Homo sapiens: one gene and its partners. The protein of the gene in region 1 purifies or fractionates together with the protein of each later gene. This does not show direct contact. Each region holds a gene or a part of one and is shown in the gene's direction. Other genes may lie near its edges.

The links.
Region 2: the proteins of CSTA (region 1) and RNLS purify together in Homo sapiens (pull-down; one study listed by IntAct). This does not show direct contact.
Region 3: the proteins of CSTA (region 1) and CTSO purify together in Homo sapiens (affinity purification with mass spectrometry; one large-scale study listed by BioGRID and IntAct). This does not show direct contact.
Region 4: the proteins of CSTA (region 1) and HAT1 purify together in Homo sapiens (affinity purification with mass spectrometry; one large-scale study listed by BioGRID and IntAct). This does not show direct contact.

Annotation. Positions count from the first base shown.
Region 1 is NC_000003.12:122,328,119-122,331,826, forward strand, and holds part of CSTA (cystatin-A), read left to right. Parts: intron 1-3,708. UniProt on the Homo sapiens protein: This is an intracellular thiol proteinase inhibitor. Has an important role in desmosome-mediated cell-cell adhesion in the lower levels of the epidermis.
Region 2 is NC_000010.11:88,317,618-88,321,318, reverse strand, and holds part of RNLS (renalase isoform 1 precursor), read left to right. Parts: intron 1-3,701. UniProt on the Homo sapiens protein: Catalyzes the oxidation of the less abundant 1,2-dihydro-beta-NAD(P) and 1,6-dihydro-beta-NAD(P) to form beta-NAD(P)(+). The enzyme hormone is secreted by the kidney, and circulates in blood and modulates cardiac function and systemic blood pressure.
Region 3 is NC_000004.12:155,926,542-155,929,866, reverse strand, and holds part of CTSO (cathepsin O preproprotein), read left to right. Parts: intron 1-161; coding exon 162-325; intron 326-1,438; coding exon 1,439-1,531; intron 1,532-3,325. UniProt on the Homo sapiens protein: Proteolytic enzyme possibly involved in normal cellular protein degradation and turnover.
Region 4 is NC_000002.12:171,977,961-171,981,661, forward strand, and holds part of HAT1 (histone acetyltransferase type B catalytic subunit), read left to right. Parts: intron 1-1,286; coding exon 1,287-1,403; intron 1,404-3,701. UniProt on the Homo sapiens protein: Histone acetyltransferase that plays a role in different biological processes including cell cycle progression, glucose metabolism, histone production or DNA damage repair. Coordinates histone production and acetylation via H4 promoter binding.

The DNA of each region.
Region 1 (3,708 bases):
GATTTCATCTTCATAACCCCTGGAGCAGGCAGGGAAGATATTGTGTCTATCTTGCAGATGATGAAACCAAGATTCAAAGAGATTAAGAGTCACTTAATTAAACTGGGCATGGTGGCTCAAGCCTGTAATCCCAGCACTTTGGAAGGCTGAGGCGGGCAGATCACATGAGGTCAGGAGTTCGAGACCAGCCTGGCCAACATGGTGAAACCCTGTCTCTACTAAAAATACAAAAATTAGCCCGGCGTGGTGGCAGGTGCCTGTAATCCCAGCTACCCAGAGGCTGAGGCAGGAGAATCACTTGAACCCGGGAGGCGGAGGCCACAGTGAGCCAAGATCATGACATTGCACTCCAGCCTGGGCCACAGAACAAGATTCCATCTCAAAAAAAAAAAAAAAAAAAAGAGTCACCTAGTTAAGAAGTTAGCTCACCCCCAGTGTTTGACTGCCTGCCCTCTCTACCACACAGTGGCAGAACACAGAGGAGCTTTGTTAGGAAACGGAAATACACTGAATGGAGAGAGTGTGGTAAGTTTGTCTTCTCAGTGGAAGCACCAGCCTCACAGTTAAGTCCATATAGGAGGCCAAGGCAGGCGGATCACCTGAGGTCAAGAGTTCAAGACCAGCCTGGCCAACATAGCTTTCTACTTTCTAGTTTTCTACTAAAACTAGAAAATTAGCTGGGCGTGGTGACGGGCGCCTGTAGTCCCAGCTACTCAGGAGGCTGAGGCAGGAGAATTGCTTGAGCTCAGGAGGTGGAGGTTGGAGTGAGCCGAGACTGTGCCACTGCACTCCAGCCTGGATGACAGAGCGAGACTCCATTTCAAAAAGTAAAAAAAAATTAAAAATTTAAAATTTAATTTTTTTTTTGACGGAATCTCGCTCTGTCGCCCAGGCTGGAGTGCGGTGGCACGGTCTCGGCTCACTGCAAGCTCCGCCTCCCGGGTTCACGCCATTCTCCTGCCTCAGCCCCCCGAGTAGGTGGGACTACAGGCGCCCGCCACCATGCCTGGCTAATTTTTTGTATTTTTTAGTAGAGACGGGGTTTCACCATGTTAGCCAGGATGGTCTCGATCTCCTGACCTCATGATCCACCCGCCTTGGCCTCCCAAAGTGCTGGGATTACAGGCGTGAGCCACCGCGCCCAGCCAAAATAAAATTTTTTACTCCTTAGAAGGACTGGTGCGGTGGCTCTCGGCTGTAATCCCAGCACTTTAGAAGGCAGAAGCGGGCAGATTGCTTGATCTGGGTGGTTCAAGGGCATCATGACAAAACCCTGTCTCTACCCCCTCCAAAATACAAAAAAATAGCCAGGTAGTACACGCCTGTAGTCCCAGCTACTTGGGAGGCTTAGGTGAGAGAATCACTTGCACTCAGGAAGTTGAGGATGCAGTGAGCCATGATCACGCCACTGCACTCCAGCCTGGCCAACAAAGCGAGACTCTGTTTCAAAAAATAAATAAATAAATAAATACAGGAAATGAATATCACTGAATCATTTCATAGTAGGTGCATTTCTTGTATATCTCCTAGGTGTCTAGCATTATGCTAATTATTATAGAAGCTACATGAGGTCTATAAGATATGGCCCCTGGCCTCTAGGAGTTTACAGGGTAGTTGGGAAAATCGAGATATCTGGAACATAATATAAAACAATATCCAATTAAGTGCTTTTTTTATAATCACAGGTTTTGGACCAGAAAAGATGTTAGAGATTGCTGGTCAAACCTCCTTCCTTTCAGGTGAATAATTACTGTGAGGCAGTTCAGCTCCTCTGGTGTTAAAGCCCCAATTATCACTTATCTGCCCTCTCTTGCAGGAGTGAGCCTTAGGGCACAATTTCCAATTCAGTGTTAGAAGGTAGAGGAAGAGTTGGAAAACTCTTTGTAGTTTAGGAAGCACTTTCACGTCAATTATATCATTTATGCCCCTACAAACAGCCCCAAGAGGCAGGTATTATTATAACCGCTTTATAGGTGAGAAACTTGAGTCAATTCCTTCTCCAAAATTACAGTTAGGTCCCCATGCAGGAATAGGGAAAATGGATAGATGCTAGTAATTTAGGGACAATCTCCACTACCTGTCACTTACTTGCTAGTTTTATTATTTTTTATTTTTGAATGTATCTCTGTTTTTTAAAATCACCTGTTAAAGTGGAAGTATTCTCAGAGGAGCTGAAGTTTATCAGCTTTCCTTGGACTTCTCAGAGAGCTTCTTAGTGGAAGGCCAACTGAAGAACCCCATTAGAAGGAGAGAAAGAAGGAAGAAAAAGATCATCACATAGAAAAGGGAAGAGTGTCAAAGACAAATGATAACTGCATGACCAAGGAATTTGATATCACAGTGAAAGAGGAATATTGGATGAGGGCAGAAAGAAAAGAAAGGCAAACAAGGGATGGCAATTGAGAAAACTTGAATGTTTTTGAAGGCAGGAGAAATGAGTTTTCCCATTCTGAAGATAACAGAGACTGAACATGTCATTGTAGCACCATGTACTAAAGTACACTTGGAAGAAAACCCTCTTCCAAGATTCTCCGTATTAGCTGATGTCATTGCTATACTCATCTTTCCTATTTGGGGAGACAAGTTGTCAGGATGGAAAACAACTGTGGTCTTTTCATTCAGAAAACATTGATTAGGTAGACAGAACTGTGTGAATTGCTATGGGGGTAGCAGGGACATAAAATAGTGCCTGCCCTTTGGGAAATTAATAAAATAGAATGGAGCTAAGAGGGACACATCCAGAAAGACAGAGCCATACACAGGCCCATTCATGAAAAGCCACAATCTGTATAACGAAGAACCAAATAAATGAATGGCCCAACAGCAAAAGCCTCCGGATCATTATTGCTGATCCATTATCTTATATAATATGTTAATAAGCATTTTGATGAGAATTGTGAGCATATTTATGAGAAGGAAAGAAATGTTATTTAATTGTTTTTAGAGGTAAGGGCTACTATACATGCAATGTGCATGCACACAACAAACACACACACACACACACACACACACACACACACACACACTCCCCTTAGTCATAAACCTAATTGCTGAATACTATTCCTGGCCAACACACAGAACATGATTTTTGTCAGTCAGGACACCGCACAAACACTTCATCTGCATACCATCCTGGGCACACCCTGGAACTTAGCATGTCATGGCTCTCACCCCATCCACAAATTTGCATTCCCCTCTCTGACCACAGCCTCCTTATTAGTCGCCTCTCCCACTGTCCCACACCCAAAGAACCTGTCATTCAGCCACACCAGAATCCTTCAGGCACCTACCTTCCCAACTTCATGAGAACATGCCCAGGCCCACTGAGTCTCTCATCCAGCCTGGACCCCATGACAGGAGGGTAGCTTCAAATACTCCTCCACTCATGATGATTTCCTTGACCCTGGGAGCTCCTGACATTCTAATTCTCAATTAAAGGTCACACCCACTGCCACCACTTTCTATGCAGCTACTACTGTTCCAGAATCAAAGAACTTTGCCAAAGCGAGGTGCAGAACCACAGAAAACTCACCATTACAAACCTGTGGATTAATGCTTAACAACCCGGACAGGACCCAGGGCTGCCAGAACATTCTTGCAGTCATATTTGTTGGTCTTTTTCTAGAAACCCCACAAATGTAAATCTCTCTTCAGTTGTTCATTGCCTCCCACCCCCATGGTCCCTCCAGCAGGATGTCTCAGTTCCTA
Region 2 (3,701 bases), on another chromosome or scaffold:
ACTTTCCTCTTAGCCCTGCTTTTGCTGTATCCCAGGGATTTGGATATTTTGTTTCTATTTTCACTTGTTTCAAAACATATTTTGATTTGTGCTTTAATTCTTTTGTTTACCCAAAAGTCATTCAGCAGCAAGTTGTTTGTTTGGTTTCCATGTTCTTATGTGGTTTTTGATAGTTCCTCTTGGTATGATTCCTGATTTTATTCCACTGTGGTCTGAGAAGATGCTTGATATGATTTTGATGTTTTTAAATGTATTAAGATTTGCTATATGGCCAATCATATAGTCAATTTTAGAGACTGTTCTGTGCACAGATGAGAAAAACATACATTCTGTGGTTGTTGGATGCAGTGTTCTGTGGTGTTTACTGGGTCCATTTGGTCAAGAGTCCAATTTAAGTCCAGATTTTCTTTGTTGTTTTCTGCCTCAGTGTTCTATCTAGTGCCGTCAGCATGGTGTTGAAACCCCCTACTATTATTGTAAGGCTGTCTATCTCTTCTCTTTAGGTCTAGTAGTATTTGTTTTCTAAATCTTGGTGCTCCGATGTTGAGTAAACATACATTTAAAATAGTAGAATTTTCTGATTGAATTGAACCCTTTATCATTATATAATACCCTTCTTTGTCTTTTTTTTTTAATGTGTTTGTTTTAAAGTCTCTTCTATCTCACACAGGAATAGCAACCCTTACTCTTTTTTGTTTTCCATTTGTGTGATAGATCTTTCTCCATTCTGTTGTTTTGAGACTGTGGCTGTCATAATGTGTGACATTGGTCTCTTGAAAACAGTAGATGGTTGGGTCTTGTTTTTTTTAATCTAGTTTGCCAATCTGTGTTTCTCAGGTGGGGCTTTTATGCTGTTATGTTCAAGGTTAATATTGATATGTGAGGTTTTGTTCCTGCCATAGTGTTGTTAGCTAGTTACTTTGTATTCTCAATTGTGTAATTGCTTTATAGGATCCGTGTACTTTGGCCTTATGTGTACTTTTATGGTAGCAAGCATTGTTCTTTTGTTTTCATGTTTAGAACTTCTTTGAGCTTTTCTTGTAGGACTGGTCTGGTAAAGAAGAGTTCCCTTAGCATTTGCTCATCTGGGAAAACTTTATTTGTCCTTCATTTATGAGGTGTAGTTTGGCAGGGTATAAAATTCTTGGCTGACTTTTTTTTTTTTTCCTTTAGAGAGTTAAAAATATACCCCCAATCTCTTCTTGCTTGTAAGGCTTCTACAGAGAAGTCCACTGTTAGTCTAATGGTATTTCCTTTATGGGTAATTTATCCCTTTTTTTCAGGTGCCTCCCTTTGAGAATTTTTTTTTCATGTTGACCTTGGATAGTCTGATAATTATAGGCCTTGGTGACTATCATCTTCTGTAGTATCTTGCGAGAGTTTTCTAAATTTCTTATATCTGGATGTTGATGATTCTAGCAAGGTTAGTAAGATTTTCCTGAATTACTGTCTCCAATATGTTTTCCAGGTTGCTTTCTTTTTCTTCTTCTCTCTCAGGAATACCAACCAGTTGTATGTTTGTTCACTTTACATAATCCCATATTTTTCAAAGGCTTTCTTCATTTTTCTAAATTCTTTTTTATTTTTGTCTGACTGGATTAATTTGAAAGACCACATTTCAAGCTCTGAAATTCTTTCTTCTGCTTGTCTAGGTTATTGTTAAAGCTTCCAACTGTATTTTGAAATTCTTTCCATGAATTTTTTCATTCCAGAAGTTCTAATTGTTTGGGTTTTTTTTCTTTTTTTGACATAGCTGTCTCATCTTTTATAGCCTGAATTGTTTTTCTGGTTTCTTTGTATTGGATTTCAACTTTCTCTTGGATCTCATTGAGTTTCCTTAAAATCCATATTTTGAATTATTTGTCTGCCATTTCAGACTTTTCATTTTTGTTAGGACCTATTGCTACAGAGCAAATGAAATACTTTGGAGGTGTCAATCCACTCTAGGTTTTTTTTTGCTACTAGAGTTCTTGCACTGATTCCTTCTCATATGAGGGATCTGTCACGTTTATTTTTTAATTTTCTGTCCTTTTGATAGGACTTTTACATTTTGTAATTCTTTTTTATCTTGAGGGTATGTTGTATGTTGTGTATGATCATTTGGCCTCCTTTCCAGGTGCTTTCAGAGGACCAAGGTGCTGTATGGGTCCTTCATTGTGGGTAGCTTTTGTGTGGTGGCTTTCTCGGATGCTGCTTGTTGTAGCAATATATTTGACATATGAGCTAACACTCTATCTACTGCTTGGCTGAGGGTATGGAAGTCTCATCACATACACTAGCACTCAGCCCTTCTGGCAGCAGGTGTTTTATTTGGTGGTGGAGTTCAAGCTCTAGTCCAGTAGGTGGCACTTAAGAGTAAGAGCTGGCCCACCCACAGGTAGATTGATGATGAGCGGAAGCACCTGCCCTGATATAGAGGGGAGGAGATTTTGTTGGAGCATGCTGAGGTCTTTGGGGAAGGAGCAGTTGGGGAAGTGCACCAGCTCCTCATCCTGACCAGGCAGGAATGCCAGCTGCTTCCCCTATCACACCATGTCACAGGGCTCCCAGCCTTCAGTTCATAAAGACTTTTTCCTTTGGTTCCCAGCTGCAATGTGGCTATGGGCTACTGATATACCATTTTGGCAGCTACCACCAAGATGGTCTTGGGGCAGAGCCCCTTCCCCCAGTCCAGAGCAGACAACTCTGTGGCTTGTCTGTGTCCTCCATTGCCAGGATGCTGCTGTTTTGTGTAGGGTCAGGGAGTTGGGCCCTGCCCTTTGTGCAAGCCCAAGCAGCATGGGCTCACTTTCAGCGAGTGTGGATTCACTACAAAAAGTGTGATAAGTGCTTTCTCCAGGTGCACATATACCAGCCCCCAGCCAGAAGAACCACTACTGCATCCTCAACAGTGGCTAAAGGTGGCAAGGGGTGGATGACTCCCTCTCCACAACCCTTCCTAGCCATCAGTGCTACCCCCTTCACCGATTGGTGCCACTTCCTTCATTTCCTTTGTCCCAAGGGAGACTTTAGTGGGCTGTGCTCCCCATTGCCTTCAGGGCAGCCCACCAAGGGTGAGATCTCCAGGGCTCCCACAGCTCCACAGGGACCCAACAGCCCCATGTTTGCCAGAGACAGAATGGGTTGTGGGGTATGTTTGTGGGGAATCTCGTGGTGTGGTGACTCAAGGGCAGAGATTCCCTGGGCAGGGCAGTGTCCCACCACAGGTGCACAACCAGCATGGCTCAGTTCAGCCATGTCAGTTCAGGTCTGAGGGGAGTGTAGGCATGCTTAACATGAGCTGGCCACCTGGTTCTTTGCCCCTGGAAAATTCCCCCAAGTCACCACTGACAGCATTGCCCGTGATCCAGAGGGCAGAGGGGCTCCCCAACAGTTTGACAGTCAGTGAATTGTTGCAGGGGTGAAGGGAGCAGAGAAGCACACCCACTACCCCTTAGCACAGGGTTCTGAGTTCCTCAGGGGTCAATCTCTGCCAGACCCTTGCTGCTTTTTTTTTCTGCATCTCAGCTTTTTCCCCTGGGCACTCTGTCAGGTCCTGGATCTCTTCTGTAAGTTTTGCATTTGGAACTTGTCCATTCACAGATAACTTTGATCTTTCTGAAAAGAGCTGGCATCTGATGTCACTAGACAGGCATCTTGAAAACCAGCAGCTTGATGGTGACTGTTATAGAACAAAGTGAACATACTCAATGCTACTGAAC
Region 3 (3,325 bases), on another chromosome or scaffold:
TCCCAGCCATAGACTACCAGTCTCTCAGACTTAGCTTCCATTGTTTAGGTCCTTTGTAACTGCAACCAAACCTACTCAGAATCATACACAGATTATATAGATCATTGTTATTTTTACCTTAAAAACTAAATTTTCTAACCAAATATTTCCTCTTTTGGTAGTGACCAAGAAGATGAAATGGCAAAAGCACTTCTTACCTTTGGCCCTTTGGTAGTCATAGTAGATGCAGTGAGCTGGCAAGATTATCTGGGAGGCATTATACAGCATCACTGCTCTAGTGGAGAAGCAAATCATGCAGTTCTCATAACTGGGTTTGATAAAACAGGTAAGTGCTGATAAGACTCAGTTGACTGCTTTCCAGCATGGACACTGAGTGCAAAATGATCACCATACTGTAGAACATTGAAATTTGGTTCTGCTATGATTAAGTCCTCATAAGACCTTCACAACTTCTCAACAATCTTATAGGAGTAAATGTGCCGAGACCAGCTCAGTTGTGGAGACCCTAACCCAGCGGCGCTAGAGGAATTAAAGACACACACACAGAAATATAGAGTGTGGAGTGGGAAATCAGGGGTCTCACAGCCTTCAGAGCTGAGAGCCCCGAACAGAGCTTTACCCACATATTTATTGACAGCAAGCCAGGGATAAGCATTGTTTCTATAGATTATAGATTGACTAAAAGTATTCCTTATGGGAAATAAAGGGATGGGCCGAAATAAAGGGATAGGTCTGACTAGTTGTCTGCAGCAGGAGCATGTCCTTAAGGCACAAGATTGCTGATGTTATTGTTTGTGGCTTAAGAACGCCTTTAAGCAGTTTTCTGCCCAGGGTTCGGCCAGGTGTTCCTTGCCCTAATTCCGGTAAACCCACAACCTTCCAGCGTGGGCGTCATGGCCATCACGAACATGTCACAGTGCTGCAGAGATTTTGCTTATGGCCAGTTTTGGGACCAGTTTATGGCCGGATTTGGGGGGCCTGTTCCCAATGTAAATGTCTTGTCAGATTCCACCTGTCAATTTTTGAGTGGATATCCTGTTAAAATGATGATAATTTTTGTTGATATAAAACTGTATCGGGAACATTTAGAATAATTGTTGGGAAAAGGTAAGTGCATATTATTTTATCATACGTATCTAAAAGTTCTTTTTTCTTTTTCTGATTCCTTGGAAATTAGTGTTTGTTTTCATTTTATGCAGTCCCTGTATAAAGGGAAGTGAATTCAAACATATATTTCTACTGATTGGAGAGTGTCCGTAAGTACTGCTCAGGTTTACTTAGTTAAAATAAAGTAGTTTAAGTTACCATTAAATTACATTTTTAATCTTCTTCTCAGAGCTACTATCCTTAGCAAGAATCCAACTTAAAATAAAGAAACTTAAACATTCATAACAAATTTGAGTTTTCAGGATTTGTTACTATTTATGTTTCACTGTAGGAAGCACTCCATATTGGATTGTGCGGAATTCCTGGGGAAGTTCTTGGGGAGTAGATGGTTATGCCCATGTCAAAATGGGAAGTAATGTTTGTGGTAAGTCATGAGTTTGTGTTTAAAACCTCAATATAAATATTAAGGAGATTATTTGAATATTTTAGAGTTACAATCTACTCAAACCACTTTAGCAGTAATAATTTTTGTCCTTTAACCAAATGATAAAAAAAAAAGTGTTTTGCAAGAGGAACTGTTAAACATATTAGTATTTGAAAAAGGAAGAGGGACCTTAGTAAAAAATATATATTACATATATATCTCAAAACATAAGATAAAGTAATAATTTACCAAGGTTAATTGCTTTAAAAATGAGATAAACACACAGCTTAGGAGACTGGACTCCTGCAGAAATGTCTTCTTGTTCCAAATTTACATTTCATAACTATAAATTTTTCTTAATTTCTGTATTATAATATCTGCTCAATGATTATCAAGAGTTTTTCTTTGTTTTAAAATATACGAAAACTAAGCATTAGTATTGTTTGTGATTTAATATGCCCCTTGCCACCTACAAAATTCTAGCAAAACACCCACTAGAATTGAGAGGCTTAGGCAAATACCAAACATGCTTTTTTATTGAGTGACAACTTTTTTTTTTTTGAGATAGAGTCTCGCTCTGTCTCCCAGGCTGGAGTGCAGTGGCATGATCTCGGCTCACTGCAAGCTCCGCCTCCCGGGTTCACACTCTTCTCCTGCCTCAGCCTCCTGAGTAGCTGGGACTACAGACTCCCGCCACCACACCTGGCTGATTTTTTGTTTTTGTATTTTTAGTAGAGACGAGGTTTCACCGTGTTAGCCAGGATGGTCTCAATCTCCTGACCTCGTGATCTGCCCTCCTTGGCCTCCCAAAGTGCTGGGATTACAGGCGTGAGCCACCACGCCCAGCCTGAAACACAACTTTTTAAATGAACCACCAACCAAACTAAAATAGCTAGTTAAGAATTTTAACCGTGTTATAAAACTATATTCAAACCTATATTCTAAAACTTTTGGTCTAGAAATCAACATATTTTCTGAATCAAGCTAGACCCAAACTAAGTTACATATTAGAGCAATCATGTCATTTCTTATTATAATTTGTTCCAACATATATACAATTTTTTTAAATGCAGAATCTTTCAGATTATGAGACTGATTAAATAGTTACAGAAAAATTTGAAAGTTTATGTTCAATGACTATTAACCAATCATTCCATAAGGCAGAATCCATGAGAGTTCATGAGTGATCTGTTCTATCACCCTGATGAGACAGTTTTTATAAGTTATTCATTGAAAAAAGTCAACATCACAGAAATATATTGGCCAGAATACTAGCAACCCCATCAGGCCTCCACTTTTCAGCATCACTGGGGACTCGTACATCTTTGGAACTTGCAGATAAATGACTGATGCTAATCATTAACCCTTGCTGCTGAACATATATTATGTCCGACTGCAGCAGTGGTGGATCCTGGATTTGGGCTGAGGGGTGACTGCTTTCAAATCTCTTACAGGAGTGTTAAAATAACATAATTCAAATATTGGTTCATAATTGCCTCAATTATAACTACGTCCCTCACCACAACCTTTCTCCATCCCTCAGCTACTAAGGGTGAGTGGAGATAATTTCTGCTCTCTACCTGCTTTCATAATGTAAATCTTTAAGGGCATGCCTGGTTGGTAATCATACAGGGATTCAAATTCTTCCTGAAAGTGAGTATTCCCTGAAAGTTACAATGATGTCATATTACTCTTATGAGCAATGGCATAAGGCAGATAGTATTTCATAGCTGCAAGAGATTTCGAAGATACGGTTAGTTATAATAAAAACCAGTCTTCAGATAGGCTATTTAT
Region 4 (3,701 bases), on another chromosome or scaffold:
CAGAAAAACTGTGGTTCTCCTTTGGCTTCAGTGCTACCAAAAACTTCCTGATTCTTCTGATATTTCCTTGATACCATTTGTCTTTTTTTTTCCTTTTCCTTTTTTTTTTTTTTTGAGACAGGGTCTCTTGCTCTGTCACCTGAGGTGGAGTACAGTGGTGTAATCACGGCTACGGCTCACTGCAGCCTCAACCTCCTGGGCTCAAATGACTCTCCCACCTCAGCCTCCCAAGTAGCTGGGACTGCAGGGGTACGCCACCACACCTGGCTAATTTTTGTAGAGACAGGGTTCCTACAGGCTGTTCTCAAACTGCTAGGCTCAAGCGATCTGCCCACCTTGGCCTCCCAAAGTGCTGGAACTACAGGCATGAGCCACCATGTCCAGCCCTGTCTGCTTTTTAACTGTCACTGTACTAGCAGGTTTCTGACCTTTCTCCTTTTATCACTGTATATGCTTTCCTCAGGTGACCTTAACCAGCCTTATGGTTTTAACTCTTACCTATATACTGACATTGCTTAAATCCTTGCCCTTAGACTAGAATTTTCTTCAGATTTTCTATTTTCTGCTGCCTCCCAAATCTCTCCTAGGCTGTGAAAACTCACATTTTCACATCCTTCTCTCAGTTTTTCCTCTCATATGTTTCTAGAGTCCTTGACCCCTTGGTCTTCTTGTGCTGTTCCAGTTCATGCCCTCATCGTTTTTTATGTGATGTAATAACTCAGCTTCTTGATTGGTCTCTATGCACTTCTTTTTGCTACCATTTCTTTGTAGCTGAAAGAGTGACTTATTTAAAACTCAAAATTTGTGCATATTGCTTACATTCCTATTTAAAATCTGTCATGAAGGCTGGGGCAGTGGCTTACGCCAGTAACTCTAATACTTTGGGAGGTTGAGGCAGGAGGATTGCTTGAAGCTGGGAGTTGAAGATCAGCCTGGGCAACAAAGTGAGATCCCATTTCTACAAAAAAAAAAAAAAAAAAAAATAGCCGAGTGTGGTGCATATGCCTATGGTCCCAGCTGCTCAGGAGGCTGAGGTGGGAGGATGGCTTGAGTCTAGGAGGTTGAGGCTGCAGTGAACTATGATCGTGCCACATTAAATTATCCATACCATAATCATTTGTGTTACCCACTAGACTGCTTGAGGGCAACTACTTTTATTGCCTTTCCTCTGGTTTCTAGCACAATTCCTTGCTCATGGCAGATATTAAATATATCCTGTGTTCTTTTGGGAAAGTGTCATTATTTTTACTTTGAAAATGTTCGCATTTTCTTTTGTTTCATTCTAGCAACACGCTAGAAGGGTTTATGAAATTCTTCGACTACTGGTAACTGACATGAGTGATGCCGAACAATACAGAAGCTACAGACTGGATATTAAAAGAAGACTAATTAGCCCATATAAGGTAGGACTTTCAAGAATCTTAAACACTGTATTCTTTTCACTGTTTAAAACAGAAGAAAAGCTACCAAATATCAGTATATGAGAGAGTCCAAGTCATTTTGTAAAATTAACTTTTACAAAAGTAGAAATATTCTTCCAGTAATTTATAAAAATTCTCACTCATGGCCGGGCGTGGTGGCCCACACCTGTAATCCCAGCACTCAGGGAGGCCAAGGCGGGTGGATCACCTCAGGTCAGAAGTTCAAGACCAGCCTGGCCAACGTGGTGAAACCCTGTCTCTACTAAAAATACAAACATTAGCTAGGCTTGGTGGTGGGCGCCTGTAATACAGTGACTTGGGAGGCTGAAGCAGGAGAATCGCTTGAATCCAGGAGGTGGAGGTTGCTGTGAGCCAAGATTGCACCATTGCACTCCAGCCTGGGTGACAAGAGCAAAACTCCATCTGAAAAGAAAAGAAAAGAAAAGAAAAAAAACCCGGGTGCAGTGGCTCACGCCTGTAATCCCAGCACTGTGGGAGGCCGAGGTAGGTGGATCACTTGAGGTCAGGAGTTCAAGACCACCCTGGCCAACATGGCGAAACCCCATCTCTACTAAAAATACAAAAATTAGCTGGGCATGATAACACGTGCCTGTAATCCCAGCTGTTTGAGAGGCTGAGGCACGAGAATCACTTGAACCCAAGAGGTGGAGGTTGCAGTGAGCTGAGATTGTGCCACTGCACTTCAGCCTGGGTGACAGAATGAAATTGTGTCTCAGAACAAACAAACAAACTTATCCCAAGGATAGTCTACCATGGTTAGCTTTTCTTTCATTTGTATGCATCTTTAAAAAATCTGAATGCCTAGTCTCTTCCCTAACAAATTATGTTGTTTTTCCCAAGTTTCTTGTCTTCTCAGTTGTTATATATATATATTCTCTTTTTTCTCTCTTCCCAGATAAAAGCAAAGTTATACATATATATTCTCTTTGCTTTTGCTTTCTTCTTCCTAAAAATAGCCTTTATTGCTATTTATTAATATAATCTTTGTACTTTACCATAGCCGAAACCATGTTAGTACTATTATATTTTTAAACATTCTTCTTGCCCTTTTTTCCCACTTCGTCGTCATCTTCCATATTTTCCCTCCTAGATCAAATTGGCCTTATCATTTGGACATTGTCAGGATGGATATTGTTTATGCCACCTTATGTGAATGAAAATTTGCTATCTAGGCAAGGCGTGGTGGCTCATGCCTGTAATCCCAGCACTTTGGGAGGCCGAGGTGGGCAGGTCACCAGAGCTCAGGAGTTCAAGACCAGCCTGGCCAACATGGCAAAACCTCGCCTCTACTAAAAATACAAAAATTAGTTGGGTGTGGTGGTGGGTACCTGTAATCCCAGCTACTTGGGAGGCTGAGGCAAGGGCATCACTTGAACTCGGGAGGCAGAGGTTGCAGTGAGCTGAGATCATACCACTGCAATCCAGGCTGGGCAATGGAGCAAGACTCCATCTCAAAAAAAAAAAAAAAATTTAAAAAAAAAAAAAGGCCAGGTGCGGTGGTTCACGTCTATAATCCCAGCAATTTGGGAGGCTGAGGCGGGCAGATCATCTGAGGTCAGGAGTTCGAGACCAGCCTGGCCAACATGGTGAAACCCTGTGTCTACTAAAAATACACAAATTAGCCAGGCATGGTGGGAGGTGCCTGTAATCCCAGCTTCTCCGGAGGCTGAGGCAGGAGAATTGCTTGAACCTGGGAGGCAGAGGTTGCAGTGAGCCAAGATTGCGCCATTGTACTCCAGCCTGGGTGACGAGCAAAATTCCATCTCAAAAAAGAAGAAAATTTGTCATCTAGTTGCAGCTGAGTAGTGGGATGATTGGCAGAATATTTAATTTATTCAACATATAATTATTGAGTACAGTTGCTCAATGATAAAATGTTGTTGCTGCATTTATATATACTATACCTATAGGGTTATACATCACAATAGCTGGGAACATAAGTGACCAAGTTGATTCTACATTACAATTTGAGAAAGTAAATTAACTAACTGTATCAGGTACACATAGTTTTGGTTTTCCTTTGTAAATTTAAAGAAAATTTAAGTTTTATTTGCCATGGATTCTGCTTTATAGAGCCAGTCTTGAATGCTGATGGTTCATTGGCTGACACTACTTGCTGAATCCCAACTTTTCCTTCATAGCATCTTTTTACTTTGCAGTGCAACTGTATTTCCTAATTTGTCATTGTAATTCTGTTCACATTCTGAATATAAAATTATTATTTGCCTATGACTAAATCATTTTATCTTGAATTCATAC